2 separate regions of the Homo sapiens genome follow, and region 1 is linked to region 2. Evidence: fine-mapped expression QTL. Tissue or cell type: lung. Region 2 holds a variant in brackets; the other region holds the start of a gene. All regions are shown on one strand. Distances are between the middles of the regions.

Region 1 (8,103 bases), 84 kb after region 2:
TTTGATGAGGATTCCATACCTGATTCTTTCATGATTCAAGCACAAAGAGATAATTTTACACCAAGGCAAAGGCAACTACTAGGTAAACATGACGCAGCTTCCAAAAGCATCAACTTTACTTGCCAAATTGAAGAGCAAGAAGGAAGGGGTTTCAAATTACTATTGGTTAAATATTTAAAACCCATAATGTTAAAATAATCATGGTTATGTTACAGAACTATGTGCATTTTAATATACAATTGCCAAAAATGCTTGTTCTTTGGTGCTATAAAGAAGTATCACTTGAACGTAAATTTTATTTCTTCAGCAAGGCCATTTTTTTACTTTCTGCACAAAAGGGTACAGTCGCCAGCAGTTTTGCTACACTGAACAAAGGAGACAGGGTCATTTATAACTTGACACATCTACTTTACTGCTGTGTCCGGTTTCTATTGGCTGGAACGGGACTTCACATTCTGTATCTGTCTTCATTGACTAGCAACTTAGAACTTGAAGTAACTTGTGGAATGCTGAGAAAGGTAAAAACACTTTTAAATAAGGAAGAAGAACAGGCTATGACTTAATGCTTGCTTGGACCAGTATAAGCACGCCAGGGCAAATATTTAGGCTAAATTGTGGGAGCTAAGAACATAAAATACACTGATTTCTTTATTACAGCTAGCAGATATTTAAGAATGTTAGCATAGGTCTTTGAATAAATTTTGCTTCTAAGATAAGTTACTATTTAGTCTTAATTAGATGGGGAGGAAACTCTTTGAAGCAGAACCTCTACTTTACTTTTTACCTAACGAACATTTTCTCCAATACTCTCAGGGATTTGCACTAAATCTCCTCTGTCCTTGCGAAGCCGAGGCGAAAAAGATAGAGAAACAGCACAAAGTAACCCGCACTCCTAATTGTCCAGAGCACTGCAAGCTCATCAGAAGAAAGGAGGAGGAAGGGAGAAGAGCATACTCCAGCATACAACCAAAAGCTTTGTCCAAACATCCAAGAGAGCAACAAGGCTTTGTTGGCAATCAATCAATGAAATAACATAGGAAATGTACATGAAAGGAAAGTATCTTGGGCACCCAAGATCACTAAGGAAAACTCAAGCTGGAAACTGCTTAGGGCAAACCTCTCCCATTCTATTCAAAGTGACTTCTCGGCTCACTGAGATAGATGCATATCTGATTTGCCTCCTTTGGAAAAGCTAATCAGAAACTCAAAAGAACGCAAGCATTTGTGTATCACCAATCTGTGACCTGAAAGCTCCCTCCCCACTTCCAGTCTTCCTGCCTTTGCTTCAAGTTGTCCCGCCTTTCCAGAACGAACCAACGTACTTCTTGCATATATTGATTGATGTCTCATGTCTCCCTAAATGTACAAAACCAAGCTGTGCCCTGACCACCTTGGGCGCATGTCAACACGACTTCCTGAGGCTGTGTCACGGGTGCGTCCTCAACCTTGGCAAAATAACCTTTCTAAATTAACTGAGACGTGTCTCAAATTTTCGAGGTTCACATATATTTTCTGTGGATATAAACAGCATAATGAATAAACTATCTGAAACTGTTCTGCTGTGCTAAGTTAACAAAAAATTTTAAAAAACAAGGCCTTAAAAAAGTCAATGTAACAGTCTTCTTACCACTTTGGATAAAACAATGAAGCCACATTTGTGCATATTATAGGTTTCTATGTAAGACCTGAAATTAGTAGATAAAAAATGCCAGATTTTAAATAAAACATTAGCTAAAATAAATGTCTCAAAGTGTTGATGCGAGTGACTAATACGCTATACAAATATAAATATGTAGAACTTTTACTTTAAAACCAGCAACAAACAATAAAGACATTTGCCCTGCAGCCATAAACACGGGCTCTATTATATCTGATTACAATGCAGGGGTGGAAGGGAAGGGGGTAGTAGGAGGACATTTTGGGTCTTCAAATAATAAATATAGGAAAAGAATACAAAATGCCTACTCTAGTTACGGTAACCAAAGTAATTTCTCAAGAAAATCCACCACTCTAGTGATTCCTGCTTCTTTTATCATTTTAGGTTCTCCCTACTAGAAAATGTAAATGTTACATTTTTAGCTTTTTCCTTAAATGCATTTTTCCCCCCAAGAAGTGGTACAGTGGAATATTAACGGATTTTAGAAACAGGCAGATACATAGTTTCCAACATCTGCTCTACAATCCACTATCTTTGTAATGGTGGAGAAATTACTTAACCTCTTTAAGCCTTAATTTCCTCATCTATAAAACAAGGATAATTATACCTGCTTTTTATAACTGTCTTATGCAATAAATAAAGCTATAAATAAATGGCATGTAGTAGCCATTTAAAAAAAAAAGTCTCTCTCCTTTTATTAACTGTACAACAAACAGCTCTTCATCCTCCATTCCTTGCAATTTAAAAAACTACAAAGGTAATTTGCTTACACTGACAGAGAGAAAATGAGTTTTTACATTTTGTTCAGAAAAAGTTTTAATCATAAGGTTTAACTCATTCAGAAAATCAGTTATTTCGCCTTTTTAATATTATATGTACTATGGTAATAAAAATAGATTCATCCAGTCACTGTCCTCACAGAGGTCAGTCTAGTCAAAGGAAAATTTTAAAACGGTAGTAATAATGAACATTTGACCAGCCTGGCCAACATGGTGAAATCCCGTCTCTACTAAAAATACAAAAATTAGCCAGGCTTGGTGGCACAAGCCGTAGTCCCAGCTACTCGGGAGGCTGAGGCAGGAGAATCTCTTGAACCCGGGAGGTGGAGGTTGCAGTGATAGGAGATCGCACCATTACACTCCAGCCTGGGTGACAGAGCAAGACTATGTCTCAAGAAAAAAAAATAATAATAATGAACATTTATTGAGCACTTAGAATGTATTTCTGATATATCAGCTCATTTAATCTTCACAACTACTATGAGGTTTATCATTGCCTCTATTTTACAGATATGGAAACTCAAGTAACTTGCCCCAAGTCATAGCGGACCCTGCAATCAAATGCAGCCAATTGGGTTCCATAACCTATGCCCTTAACAATCCCACACTGCCTTTTCAACTATACCATTACAACAAAATGTGGAAAGCGGTGACATAAAATAAAAACAGGGTGCTATGCGGGGAAAAAACATGAACAGCGTACTCAGTCTAGAAGAGCAAAAAAGACTTCCCCCGAGGATGTCATTTGAGCTTAACCCTGAGTGAAGAATAAGGTGGACAAAACAAGAGAGTTGCGGTGGAAACTCCAGGATTAGGAAAAGCCTGTAGAGGGCCCAAAGAAAAAAAAAAAAAAAAAAAAGCAGCTGCTGGAGCAAGAAAGTGAGTGCATGGAGGGGACTGGCAGGCGAAGCTGGAGAGATAGGCAAAGGCCAGTGAGGAATGGTCTTGGCAAGTCAGAGAATTCAAGCGTTATCCCAAAGGCAATGGGCACCACTACAGAGTAATAAGTCGGGGAGTGACATAATCAAATTTGCACTTTTGAAAAACAACTTTTGGGCCGGGCGCGGTGGCTCACTCCTGTAATCCTAGCGCTTTGGGAGGCCGAGGCGGGCGGGTCACGAGATCAGGAGTTCGAGGCCAGTCTGGCCAACATAGTAAAACCCCGTCTCTACTAAAAATACAAAAAATTAACCGGGCGTGGTGCCGGGCACCTGTAATCCCAGCTACTCCGGAGGTTGAGGCAAGAGAATCACTTGAACCTGAGAGGCGAAGGGTTGCACTGAGCCGCGAACGCGCCATTGCACTCCAGCCTGGGCGACAAAAGGAGACTCCGTCTCAAAAAAAAAAAAAAAAAAAAAAAAAAAGACAACTTTGGTTGTTGGAGGAAAAATTAATTCAATCTTGAAGGGTTTTGTCTTTGCTTGTGTGTTTTTAAACATCAGGTCCTAGAACAAGACTGGGGAAGGGCAAATGATAGTGGCCTGGCTCAGGGTGGAGATGGGAGAGAGGAGTTTAGAAGGGAGGCCAGGCAGAGACGCATATTTGGGAGGAGGCCGCAACAACCATCAGGGCACAATGAAATAGAGCAGGGAAAGCGCGTTGCCTGAGCACAGGGGAAGGTCCAGGAGTCATGGAGGCAACCTTCGGTGACTGCCGCTCTTCTCAGCCCTTCACAAGTGCAATATCGCCGGGAAGGAGGCAACTTTCTACACCACCTGCGGGCAGGGAGAGGCGGGTGGTGGACAAGAAACACCCACCAGAAGATAGTCCCGAACTTCATGTTTCTCCAGAGCTCCGTGAAGTCCTCGAAGCGTACACTGTCCGTCTCCTGGAAGCGGCTGAGCAGCGCCTCGCAGTCGGTCTGCAGGCCGGGAGGAGTCCCCATGGCACCCGAAGCCCGCACGCCTCCGAAGCCCGCACGCCTCTAACGGACTAGCCAGCGGTGGTCGCCCAGGAAACCAAGCCCGAACGGCCCGCCCCCTACGGCGTGCGCACACGCGCTCCGTGATGCATTATCCGGCACCTTTAGCTCCGCCTTTATCCGGGCTCTTGCCACCGGTCGTGTGCTTACTGCGCGTGCGTGAAAGCGTTCTGATGTTTTACTGGCTGAGATTGCTTTCACCCAGAGTGCTGAGATCCACCCTTCTTTGGAAGAGGTTTACGTCTAAAGTGTTGTGTTTGCTCACGAGCGGTTTTAGGTCTTCATTTTCCGCTAGGTTATGTAACTTGACTTTACCCTTACTAGCACTCTCCTTTAAACTGACCCTAGTGTGACATAAGTGAACTTTTGAGCTAGGAAAGAACAGTCCCAACCCCAACCCCACTCCCACTTGGGAAGAGAAGCTAAAGAAGGCTTGCTAGGAAACAAACTGCACTCATTCTCCTTCTGGTCATCGAGAACCCTAATACTCTGTACCCACATAATACGATGCTTAATGTGCGGCCCTCTCTTTGTAGCCCTGGCATTCTGCAACCACTCTTGAAAAGAAGAGCTGCATTTCATACCCTCTTGTAAACAGCCCTCCTCCTGCCCTGCCACGCATTCACCCCTGTGCTACATAGCACTTAGCAGAAAATACCTACTTGTTATATTCTTGTTATATTATTATTTGGATGAATTGCCTTTTTGTGTACACGCTGCCACCTAGCTTCCTTCCTCCAGGAGCTAGCTATGGAGTAACATTTTGAACTTTAGATCATTTCTCTGATTGAAAGGTAAGCTATCATTCTTTAGAAGAGGTATCCTGATATAATAGAAAAACATTGGGCTTTCTGTGTGTAAATGGAGTGTCAACTCACTTTACTTTTCTGATCCTTGACCTGTTTTTGTTTGTTTGTTTGTTTGTTTGGATTTGTTTGTTTTTTGTTTTGAGACGGAGTTTCGCTCTTGTTGCCCAGGCCGGAGTTCAGTGGCGCGGTCTCGGTTCACTGCAACTTCCGCCTCCCGAGTTCAAGCGATTCTCCTGCCTCAGCCTCCCGAGTAGCTGGGATTACAGGCATGCACCACTCCAACCGGATTTTGTTTTGTTTTGTTTTGTTTGTATTTTTAGTAGAGACAGGGTTTCACCATGTTGGCCAGGCTGGTCTCGAACTGCTAACCTCAGGTGATCCGCTCCCCTCGGCCTCCCAAAGTGTTGGGATTACAGACGTGAGCCACTGCACCCTGCCCTCTTGACCTGTTTTTTAAATGTTATGTAATATTTTATGTCACAGAAAAATTTATGCGATGTGTGAGATAAAAAGCATAGCAGTTAAACACCTGTACACCTTTCACCTGTGTAGGAACCAGAACATTACCAACGCCTTCACATCAATCTGCGATTTCCTCCTCTGACCTATTCCTTTGACTGTACCCTACTTTAATCACAGCTACTGGTTGGGCACGGTGGCTCACGCCTGAAATCCCAACACTTTGGGAGACAAAAGCAAGAGGATTGCTTAAGCACAAGAGTTGGAGACCAGCCTGGGAAACATGGTGAAAATTAGCCGGGCATGGTGGTGCACACCTGTAGTCCCAGCTACTCGGGAGGCTGAGGTGGGAGGATCATTTGAGCCTGGGAGATGGTGGTTACAGGAGACAGAGGTTGCAGTGGTGAGCCGAGATCGTGCCACTGCACTCCATCCTGGGCTACGGAGTGAGACCGAATCTCAAAAAATAAATAAATAACTACCTTGAATTTTGTTTCTCTTTCTCATGTATATATTTTATCACATATGTATGTATATTTAAACGGTATATTTTTTAGTTGTGGTTGGTTTTGAGTTTTATGAAAATGGTATTGCAACTGGCTGGGCGCAGTGGCTCACGCCTGTAATCCCAGCAATTTGGGAGGCTGAGGTGGGTGGATCACCAGGTCAAGAGTTCGAGACCAGCGTGACCAAAATAGTGAAACCCCGTCTCTAATAAAAACACAAAAATTAGCTAGGCGTAGTGGCGTGTGCCTGTAATCCCAGCTACTTGGGAGGCTGGGGCAGGAGAACCACTTGAACCTGGGAGGCAGAGGTTGCAGTGAGCCAAAATGCATTATTTCCCCCATGATAGAGTGGGGGAACCATTTGGGAAATGGTTCATTACAACAGATAATTTGAGAAGCACTGTTATACACCATTTCAGTCCACATTCCATTGGCCAGAACTCAGTCACATGGACCCATTCAGGTGCAAAGGTGGCTGAGAAACGTCATCACTAATTAGGCAACCTCTCCCCAACAATAGTTTCAATCGCTGGAAGAGGTGCACACGTCTTTGTTGGACCACGTATTAGCTCATTTCTGCTGCTATAACAAAATACCATAGAATAGGTAGCTTACAAACAACAGAAATTTATTTCTCACAGTTCTGGGAGGCTGGGAAATCTAAGATCAAGGTGCTGGCAGATTCCGTGCCTGGTGAGGGCTGCTCTCTGCTTTCAAGATGGCACCTTGTTGCCGTGTCCTCACATGGCATAATAGCGGAAGGACAAAAGAGGCCTAGCTAGTTCCCTCCAGCCCTTTTATAAAATCACTAATCCCATTCATGAGTCCTCATGACTTAATTACCTGCTAAGGCCCTACCTCTTAATGCTATCACATTGTTAATTAAGTTTCAACACATTGATTTTGGGAGACATTCAGACCAGAACAGACTGCCAACATGTCTGCTGCAATTTTATTCAGAAACTCTGAAAGTATTACCTTTCACTTTTAATTTACTGTCATCCATCTAAAAATTTATTTCTATGTATGGTATAAGGATCCTATTTCACTTTTTTCCATATGTATAACCATATGTATGTATATGTATTTCCCGTATGTATAATTTTCCAGCATCTGTTATTGAAAAGTCCATCCTTTCCCAAAATTCACTTCTGTTATATGTCAAGTTGCATGGCTAATTGCAAACAGTACACAACTATGGCTTTGTACCTGTTATTAAAATACCAAACCATAGTGCAGTATTTCCATTACTGTTAGTATAACAGTTACCACTCTAAGCCTCCTTACTACCCTCATCCCAAACACTTGGGCCCCCCAGGCCACAAATCCCTCAACCTCCCAGCCTCTAAAACTGAAGTGGTTAAGCCTGGCACAGGAAGGAACCTTCAGTGCCGGCTCCAGCTTCAGTCTACTCCTAGGGTTGTTATCTACTTTCAAGGCTCCATTTAGATTTCACTTCTCTAACACCACACTAATTACTACAGAGTATCTTGACTATTCTTGAATTTTCACTTTTTCATATAAATTTTAAATTTGACTTGTCAAATTTCTCTGATAGCGCCATTGGGATTTCAATTGAATTACATTAAATCTGTAAGTCAATTTGGGAAGGAATAACATCTTTTTTTTTTTTTTTTTTTTTTTGAGATGGAGTTTCATTCTTGTTGCCCAGGCTGGAGTGCAATGGCGCGATCTCAGCTCACTGCAACCTCCACCTCCAGGGTTCAAGTGATTCTCCTACCTCAGCCTCCCAAGTAGCTTGGATCACAGGCATGTGCCACCATACCCAGCTAATTTTGTAGTTTTGGTAGAGATTGAGGTTTCACCATGTTGGTCAGGCTAGTCTCAAACTCCTGACCTCAAATGATCCACCCGCTTCTGCCTCCCAAAGTGGTGGGATTACAGGCATGAGTCACTGCGCCTGGCCAAAATAATATCTTTATTGTATTATTTCTATCCACAAACATTTCTT
Region 2 (8,108 bases):
CACATAATAGGGCAAATAGAAAGATTACAGGCATTTTCATCCAAACCAAAGCAATAGATTTTTGTTGAATGCATCTGATGTGGAGGGCACTGAAGGGATAAACATAAAAGAATCTCATTATTTGAAATGTTTACAATTTACTTACTGGGTAGACATAATAAAGTTAGATAAAAATGTTTTTTATTTTAAGAACAACCAACACCATTAAAAATAGGCAAATGATATGTACACTTCTTAAAAGAAGAAATGCAAACAGCTAACAAACCACATGAAAAAAAAGTTCAACATCACTATCAGAAAAATGCAAATTAGGCCAGGCACGGTGGCTCATGCCTGTAATCCCAGCACTCTGGGAGGCCAAGGTAGGCAGATAATCTAAGGTCAGGAGTTTGAGACCAGCCTGGCCAACATGGTGAAACCCCATCTCTACTAAAAATACAAAAATTAGCCAGGCATGGTGGCAGGTGCCTGTAATCCCAGCTACTAGGGAAGCTAAGGCAGGAGAATCACTTGAACCCAGGAGGCAGAGGTTGCAGTGAGCCGAGATCACACCATTGCACTCCAGCCTGGGTGACAGGAGCAAAAGTCCGTCTCAAAAAAAAAAAGAAAAAGAAAAAGAAAAAAATGCAAATTAAAACCACACTGAGATACCATCTTACACCAGTCAGAATGACTATTACTAAAAAGTCAAAAACAACAGATGTTGGAATGGATGCAGAGAAAAGGGAAAACTCATATTGTTGGTGGGAATGTAAATTAGTTCAATATCTATGGAAAAAAATATGGAAATGTCTACCAAGAGAAAAATAAATCATCATATCAAAAAGATACCTGTGGAAGTGGAGGCAGCACAAGATGGCCAATAGAAGCCTCCACCAACCATCCTCCCTTCAGGAACATCAAATGGAACAACTATCCACACAAAAAAGCACCTACATAAGAATGAAAAATCGGGTGACCAATCAGAGTACCTGGTTTTAACTTCATATCACTGAAAGAGGCACTAAAGAGGGTAGGAAAGACAGTCTTGAACTGCCAATGCCACCCCTCTCCCACCCCGACAGTGGCCACATGAGGTAAAGAATCTGTGCACTTGAGGGAGGGAGAGCATAGTGATTGTGGGACTTTGCATTGGAACTCAGTGCTGCCCTATCACAGCAGAAAGCAACACCAGACAGAACTCAGCCAGTGCCCATGGATGGAGCATTTAGATGAGCCCTAATCAGAGGGAAATCACCCATCCAAGCAGTCAGAACTTGAATTTCAGCAAGCCTCGCCACCACAAGCTAAAGTGCTCTGGGGTCCTAAATAAATTTGAAAGGCAATCTATGCCACAACGACTGCAACTCCTAAGCAAATCCTAATGCTGTGCTGGGCTCAGAACCAGTGGATTTTGGGGGACACATGACCCAGCGAGACACTGGCTGGGGCAACTAAGAGAGTGCTTGTGCCAGTCAGCCCTCCCCCAACTCCAGGCAGTGCAGCTCACAGCTCCAAAAAAGACTCCTTCCTTCTGCCTCAGGAGAGGAGAGAGAAGAGTAAAGACAATTTTGTCTTACAAATTGGATACAAGTTCAGTTACAATAGGATAGGGCACAAGACAGAGTCCGGAGGCCCCCCATTCTAGGGCCTAGTTCCTGGTCATCATTTCTAGGCAAGCTTGGGCCAGAAGGGAGCCTGCTGCCTTGAAGGGAAGAACCCAGTCCTGGCAGGATTCATCACCTATTGACTAAAAAGCCCTTGGGCCCTGAAAAATTTGTAGCAACAACCAGGTAATATGTGCTGTGGGCCTTGCATGACTCTGAGACATGCTGGCTTCAGGTTTGATCCAGCACATTGCCACCTGTGGTAGCTACAAGGAGAGACTCCTTCTGCTTGATAAAAGCAGAGGGAAAGGTAAAGGGGGCTTGTCTTGCAGCTTAGATACCAGCTCTGTCACAAAAGGGTCAAGCCCTAAGTGGGCCCCTGTGGTTTAGGTGCCAGCTCTGCCACAGTAGAATAAAGTACCAGGTAGATTTCTGACTCCAGGCTCTGTCTCCCAGAGAACATGTCTGGACCTTCCCATGGCTCAGGGAAACTCAGCGCACTGAAGAGAAGGACACAAGTTTAGCTGGTTTCACTACCTGCTGATCACAGAGCCCAAGGTTCTTGAGCAAACATAGGCAGTACCCAGGTAGCGGCTACAGTGGGCCTTGAATGAGGCCCAGTGTTGTGCTGGTTCCAGGTCTGACCATCAGAGTCCCAATGGTGGTGGCCACAGGGGTGCTTATGTCATGTGTCCTCCACTTCCAGACTGCTCAGCACAGAGAGAGAGAGAGAGACTCCTTTTGTTTTGGAGAAAGTAAGGAAAGAGAGCAAGAGTCTCTGCCTGGTAATCCAGATTATTCTTCCAGATTTTATCCAAGACCACCAAGGTGGCACCTAAGTCTGCAAGAGCCACAGCATTATTACTGGGCATGGGATGTGTCCTAATGCAGATACGGCTTCAGTGACCAAACGCTTAGATCACAACACCCAAATCCCTTCAAATACCTGGAAAGCTTTCCCAAGAAGAATGAATACAAAAAAGCCCAGAGAGTGAAGACTACAATAAATACCTAATTCTTCAATGTCCAGACACAGACAAACATCCACAAGCATGAAGACCATACAGGAAAACATGACCTCACCAAACAAACTAAATAAGCCCTCAGGGGTCAATCTGAGAGAGACAGAAATATGTAACCTTTCAGACAGAAAATCCAATAGCTGTTTTGAGGAAACTCGATGAAATTCAAGATAACACGAAGAATTCAGAATCCTATCAGATAAATGTAACAAAGAGATTGAAATAATTAAAAAGAAACAAGCAGAAATTCTGGAGTTGAAAAACTACAATTGACATACTGAAGAATGCATTAGAGTCTCTTAACAGCAGAATTAATCAAGAGAAGAAAGAATTAGGCAGCTTGAAGACAGGCTATTTGAAAATACAGTAAGAGGAGATAAAAGAAAAAATAATAGAAAACAAGGAAGCACATCTAAAATATCTAGAAAATAGTCTTTAAAAGGCAGAGTTATTGGCCATAAAGAGGAGATGGAAAGAGAGATACAAGGGTAGAAAGTTTATTCAAAGGAGTAATAACAGAGAACTTCCCAAACCTAGAGAAAGATATGAATATTCAAGTACAAGAAGGTTATAGAACACCAAGCAGATTTAACCCAAAGAGGACTACCTCAAGGTATTTAATAATCAAACTCTCAAAGGTCAAAGATAAAGAAAAGAGCCTAAAAGCAGCAAGAGAAAAGAAACAACTAACATAAAATACAATGGGGCTCCAATACATCAGGCAGCAGGCTTTTCAGTGAAAACCATACAGGTCAGGAGAGAATGGCATGACATATTTAAAGTGCTGGGGAAAAAAAGACTTTTACCATAGAATAGTATATCTAGCAAAAATATCCTTCAAAGATAAAGGAAAAATAAAGACTTTCCCAGACAAACGAAAGCTGAAAGATTTCAATAACACCAGACCTGTCCAACAAGAAATGCTAAAGGAAGTACTTCAATTAGGAAGAAAAGGATGTTAATGAACAATAAGAAATCATCTGAAGGTGTAAAACTCACTGGTAACAGTAAGTACAAGGAGAAACATACATAACATTCTAACTGTGGTGTGTAAACTAGTCTTAAGTAGAAAGATTAAATGATGAACTGACCAAAAATAATAACAACAACTTTTCAAAATGTAGACAGTACAGTAAGATATAAAGAGAAGCAACAAAAAGTTTAAAAACAGGAAGACAGAGTAAAGGCATAGAATCTTTATCAGTTTTCTTTTTGCTTGTTTGTTTATGCAAATAGTGTTGTTTTCTGCTTAAAATAATGGGTTATAAGATAGTATTTGCAAGCCTCATGGTAACTTCCAATAAAAAAACATACAACAGATACACAAAAGATAAAATGCAAGAAACTAAATCATATCACCAGAAAAAAATTACCTTCACTAAAAGGAAGGCAGGAAGGAATGAAAGAAGGAAGAGAAGACCATAAAACAACAAGAAAATGACAAAATGGCAGGAGTAAGTTCTTAACAATGGTAACACTGAATGCAAATGGACTAAACTCTCCAATCAAAAGATGCAGGCTGGCAGAATGGATGAAAAAGCAAGACCCAGTGATCTGTTGCCTACAAGAAACACTATTCATCTATAAAGATGCACATGGACTGAAAATAAAGGGATGGAAAAAGATATTCCATGCCAATGAAAACTGAAAAAGAGCAGGAATCACTATACTTATATCAGACAAAATAGATTTCAAGACAAAAACTGTAAGAGGAGACAAAGAAGGTCACCATATAATGATAAAGGGGTCGATTCAGCAGGAGGATATAACAACTTTAAATACATATGCACCCAACACTAGAGAACCCAGATATATAAAGCAAATATGAGAGCTAAAGAGACAGGCCCCAGTACAATAATAGCTAATAATAAGTGGAGTGCTCTACTTCAACACCCCACTTTCAATATTGGACAGATCTTCCAGACAGAAAATCAATAAAGAAACATCAGATTTAATCTGCACTATAGACCAAATGGACCTAATGTATATTTACAGAACATTTCATCCAACAGCTGCAGAATACACATTCTTTTCCCCAGCACATGAATAGACCATATGTTAGGTCAAAAAACAAGTCTTAAAACATTCAAAAAACTGAGATAATATCAAGCATCTTCTCTTACCACAATGGAATAAAACTAGAGGAATTTGGAAACGATACAAATACATGGAAATTAAACAATATGCTCCTGAATGACCAATGGGTCTA[C/T]GGAGAAATTAAGAAGGAAATTGAAAATTTTCTTGAAACAAATGATAATGGAAACACATAAGTCCCATACCAAAACCTGTGAGACACAGCAAAAACAATACTAAGAGGGAAGTTTATAGCTATAAGTGCCTACATCAAAAAACAAGAAAAATTTCAAATAAACAACCTAATAATGCATTTTAAAGAACAAGAGCAAGCCAAACCCAAAATTAGTAGAAGAAAAGAAATAAAGATCAGAACGGAAATAAATTTGAAATGAAGAATACAAAATATCAATGAAACAAAAAGTTGGTTTTTTGAAAAGCTAAACAAAATTCAGAAACCTTTAGCCAGACTAAGAAAAAAGAGAGAAGATCCAAATAAATAAAATCAGACACGAAAAGAAGACATTACAACTGATACTGCAGAAATTCAAAGGATCATTAGTGGCTGCTATGAGCAACTATATGCCAATAAATTGAAACATCTAGAAGAAATTGATAAATTTCTAGACACATACAACCTACCAAGATTGAACCATGAAGAAATCCAAAACCTGAACAGACAAGTAACAAGATTGAAGCCATAATAAAAAGTCTCCCAGGCTGGGCACAGTGGCTCACGCCTGTAATCCCAGCACTTTGGGAGGCTGAGGCAGGCGAATCACGAGGTCAGGAGTTCAAGACCAGCCTGGTCAACATGGTGAAGCCCCGTCTCTACTAAAAATACAAAAAATTAGCTGGGCATGGTGGCAGATGCCTGTAATCCCAGCTACTTGGGAGCCTGAGGCCAGAGAATCACTTGAACCCAGGAGGTAGAGGTTGCAGTGAGCTGAGATCATGCCACTGCACTCCAGCTGGGGTGACAGTGTGAGACTCTATCTCAAAAAAAAAAAAAAAAAAAAAAAAAAGTCTTCTAGTAAAGAAAAGCTTGCAACTCAATGGCTTCACTGCTGTATTCTACCAAACATTTAAAGGAGAACCAATACCAATCCTACTCAAACTCTCAAACTATTCCAAAAAATAGAGGACAGAATCCTTCCAAATTCATTCTATAATGCCAGAATTGCCTGATACCAAAACCAGACAAAGACATATTAAAAACAGAAAACTGTAGCCCAATATCTCTGATGAATATTGATGCAAAGGTCCTCAACAAAATATTACCAAATGGAATTCAACAATACATTAAAAAGATCATTCATTATAACCAAGTGGGATTTATTCCTGGGATGCAAGGATGGTTCAACATATGCAAATCAGTCAGTGTGGTATATCATATCAAGAGAAGGAAAAACAAAAACTATATGATCATTTCAATTGATGCTGAAAAAGCATTTAATAAAATTCAACATCCCTTCATGATAAAAACTCTAAAAAAATGGGTATAGAGGAACATACCTCAACATAATAAAAGCCATATATAACAGACCCATAGCTAGTATCCTACTAAATGAGGAAAAACTTAAAGCCTTTCCTGTAAGATTTGGAACACAATGAGAATGCCCACTTTCACCACTGTTATTTGACATAATACTGGAAGTCCTAGCTAGAGCAATCAGACAAGAGAAAGAAATAAAGGGCATCCAAATTGGAAAGGAAGAAGTCAAATTATCCTTATTTGTGGATGATATGATCTTATATTTGGAAAACCTAAAGATTCCACCAAAAAAAAACTATTAGAACTGATAAATTCTATAAAGTTGCAGGATACAAAATCAACATACAAAAATCAGCATTTCTACATGACAACAGTAAACAATCTGAAAAATCAAAAAAGTAATACCATTTATAATAGCCACACATAAAATTAAATATCCAGGAATTAAAGAAGGAAAAGATCTCTATAATGAAAACTACAAAGCACTAATGAACTAAATTGAAGAAGGCACCAAAAAATGGAAAGATATTTCATATTCGTGGATTGGAAAAATCAACATTGCTAAAATGTTCATACTACCCAAAGCAATCTACAAATTCAGTGCAATCCCTATCAAAATACCAATGACATTCTTCACATATATAGAAAAAAATCCTAAAATTTATATGGAACCTCAAAAGACCCAGAATAGCCAAAATGATCCTAAGCAAAAAGAGCAAAACTGGAAGAATCACATTATCTGACTTCAAATTATGCTACAGAGCTGCACTAACCAAAACACCATGATACTGGCATAAGAGCAGATGCATACACCAGTGGAACAGAATAGAGAACCCAGAAACAATCCACACACTTATTGTGAACTCATTTTGGACAAAGGTGCCAAGAGCATACACTGAGGAAAAGATAGTCTCTTCAATAAATGGTGGTGGGAAAACTGGAAATCCATATGCAGAAGAATGAAACTAGATCCCTATCTCTTGCCTTTTACAAAAATCTAATCAAAATAGATTAAAGACTTAAATCTAAAACCTCAAACTATGAAACTACTACAAGAAAACATCAGGGAAACATTTCAGGACATTGGCCTGGGCAAAAATTTATTCAGTAATACCCCACAGGCACTGGCAACCAAAGCAAAAATGGATAAATGGGATTGCATCAAGTTAAAAAGCTTCTGTACAGCAAAGGAAACAATCAACAAAGTTAAGAAATAACTCTATGGAAAGGTGTTCAACATCATTGATCATCAGAGAAATGCAAATCAAAACTACAGTGAGATATCACCTCATTCCAGTTAAAATGGCTTTCATTCAAAAGGCAGGGAATCATAAATGCTGGCAAGGATGTGGAGCAAAGGGAACACTGTTGGCTGGGATTGTAAATTAGTACAATAACTACGAAGAACAGTTGGGAGGTTCCAAAAAAAACTAAAAATGGAGCTACCATATGATCTAGCAATCCCACTGCTGGGTATATACCTTAAAAAAAAAGATATCAGTACATGAAAGAGAAATCTACACTCCCATGTTTGTAGCAGCACTGTTCATAATATCCACAATTTGGAAGCAACCTAAGTGTCCATCACAGATGCGTGGATAAAGAAAATGTGATACTTTTTTAAATTTTTCTTTAATTATTATTATTATACTTTAAGTTTTAGGGTACATGTGCACAATGTGCAGGTTTGTTACATATGTATACATGTGCCATGTTGGTGTGCTGCACCCATTAACTCGTCATTTAGCATTAGGTATATCTCCTAATGCTATCCCTCCCCGCTCCCCCCACCCCCTAACAGTCCCCGGTGTGTGATGTTCCCCTTCCTGTGTCCATGTGTTCTCATTGTTCAATTCCCACCTATGAGTGAGAACAGGCGGTGTTTGGTTTTTTGTCCTTGCGATAGTTTGCTGAGAATGATGGTTTCCAGCT

Evidence for each region. PIP is the estimated chance that this variant, and not a neighbour inherited with it, causes the effect.
Region 1: it holds the start of SNAPC1, and the variant in region 2 is fine-mapped to the expression of SNAPC1 in lung (TOPMed, PIP above 0.99).

Annotation. Positions count from the first base shown.
Region 1 is chr14:61,758,679-61,766,781 of GRCh38, reverse strand. SNAPC1 (small nuclear RNA activating complex polypeptide 1) reads right to left here and starts at 4,362. Exons shown (of 10, transcript NM_003082.4): 1 at 4,194-4,362. The coding sequence starts at 4,321. RefSeq lists enhancers at 3,392-4,135, 4,136-4,879, 4,947-5,036, 4,880-5,623, 5,624-6,368.
Region 2 is chr14:61,842,638-61,850,745 of GRCh38, reverse strand. All of the region lies in intron 1 of SYT16 (synaptotagmin 16), which reads right to left. Among named protein-coding and RNA genes, the nearest start is that of SYT16, 34 kb to the right of the region's middle. The variant C/T (reference allele first, on the strand shown) is at 4,818.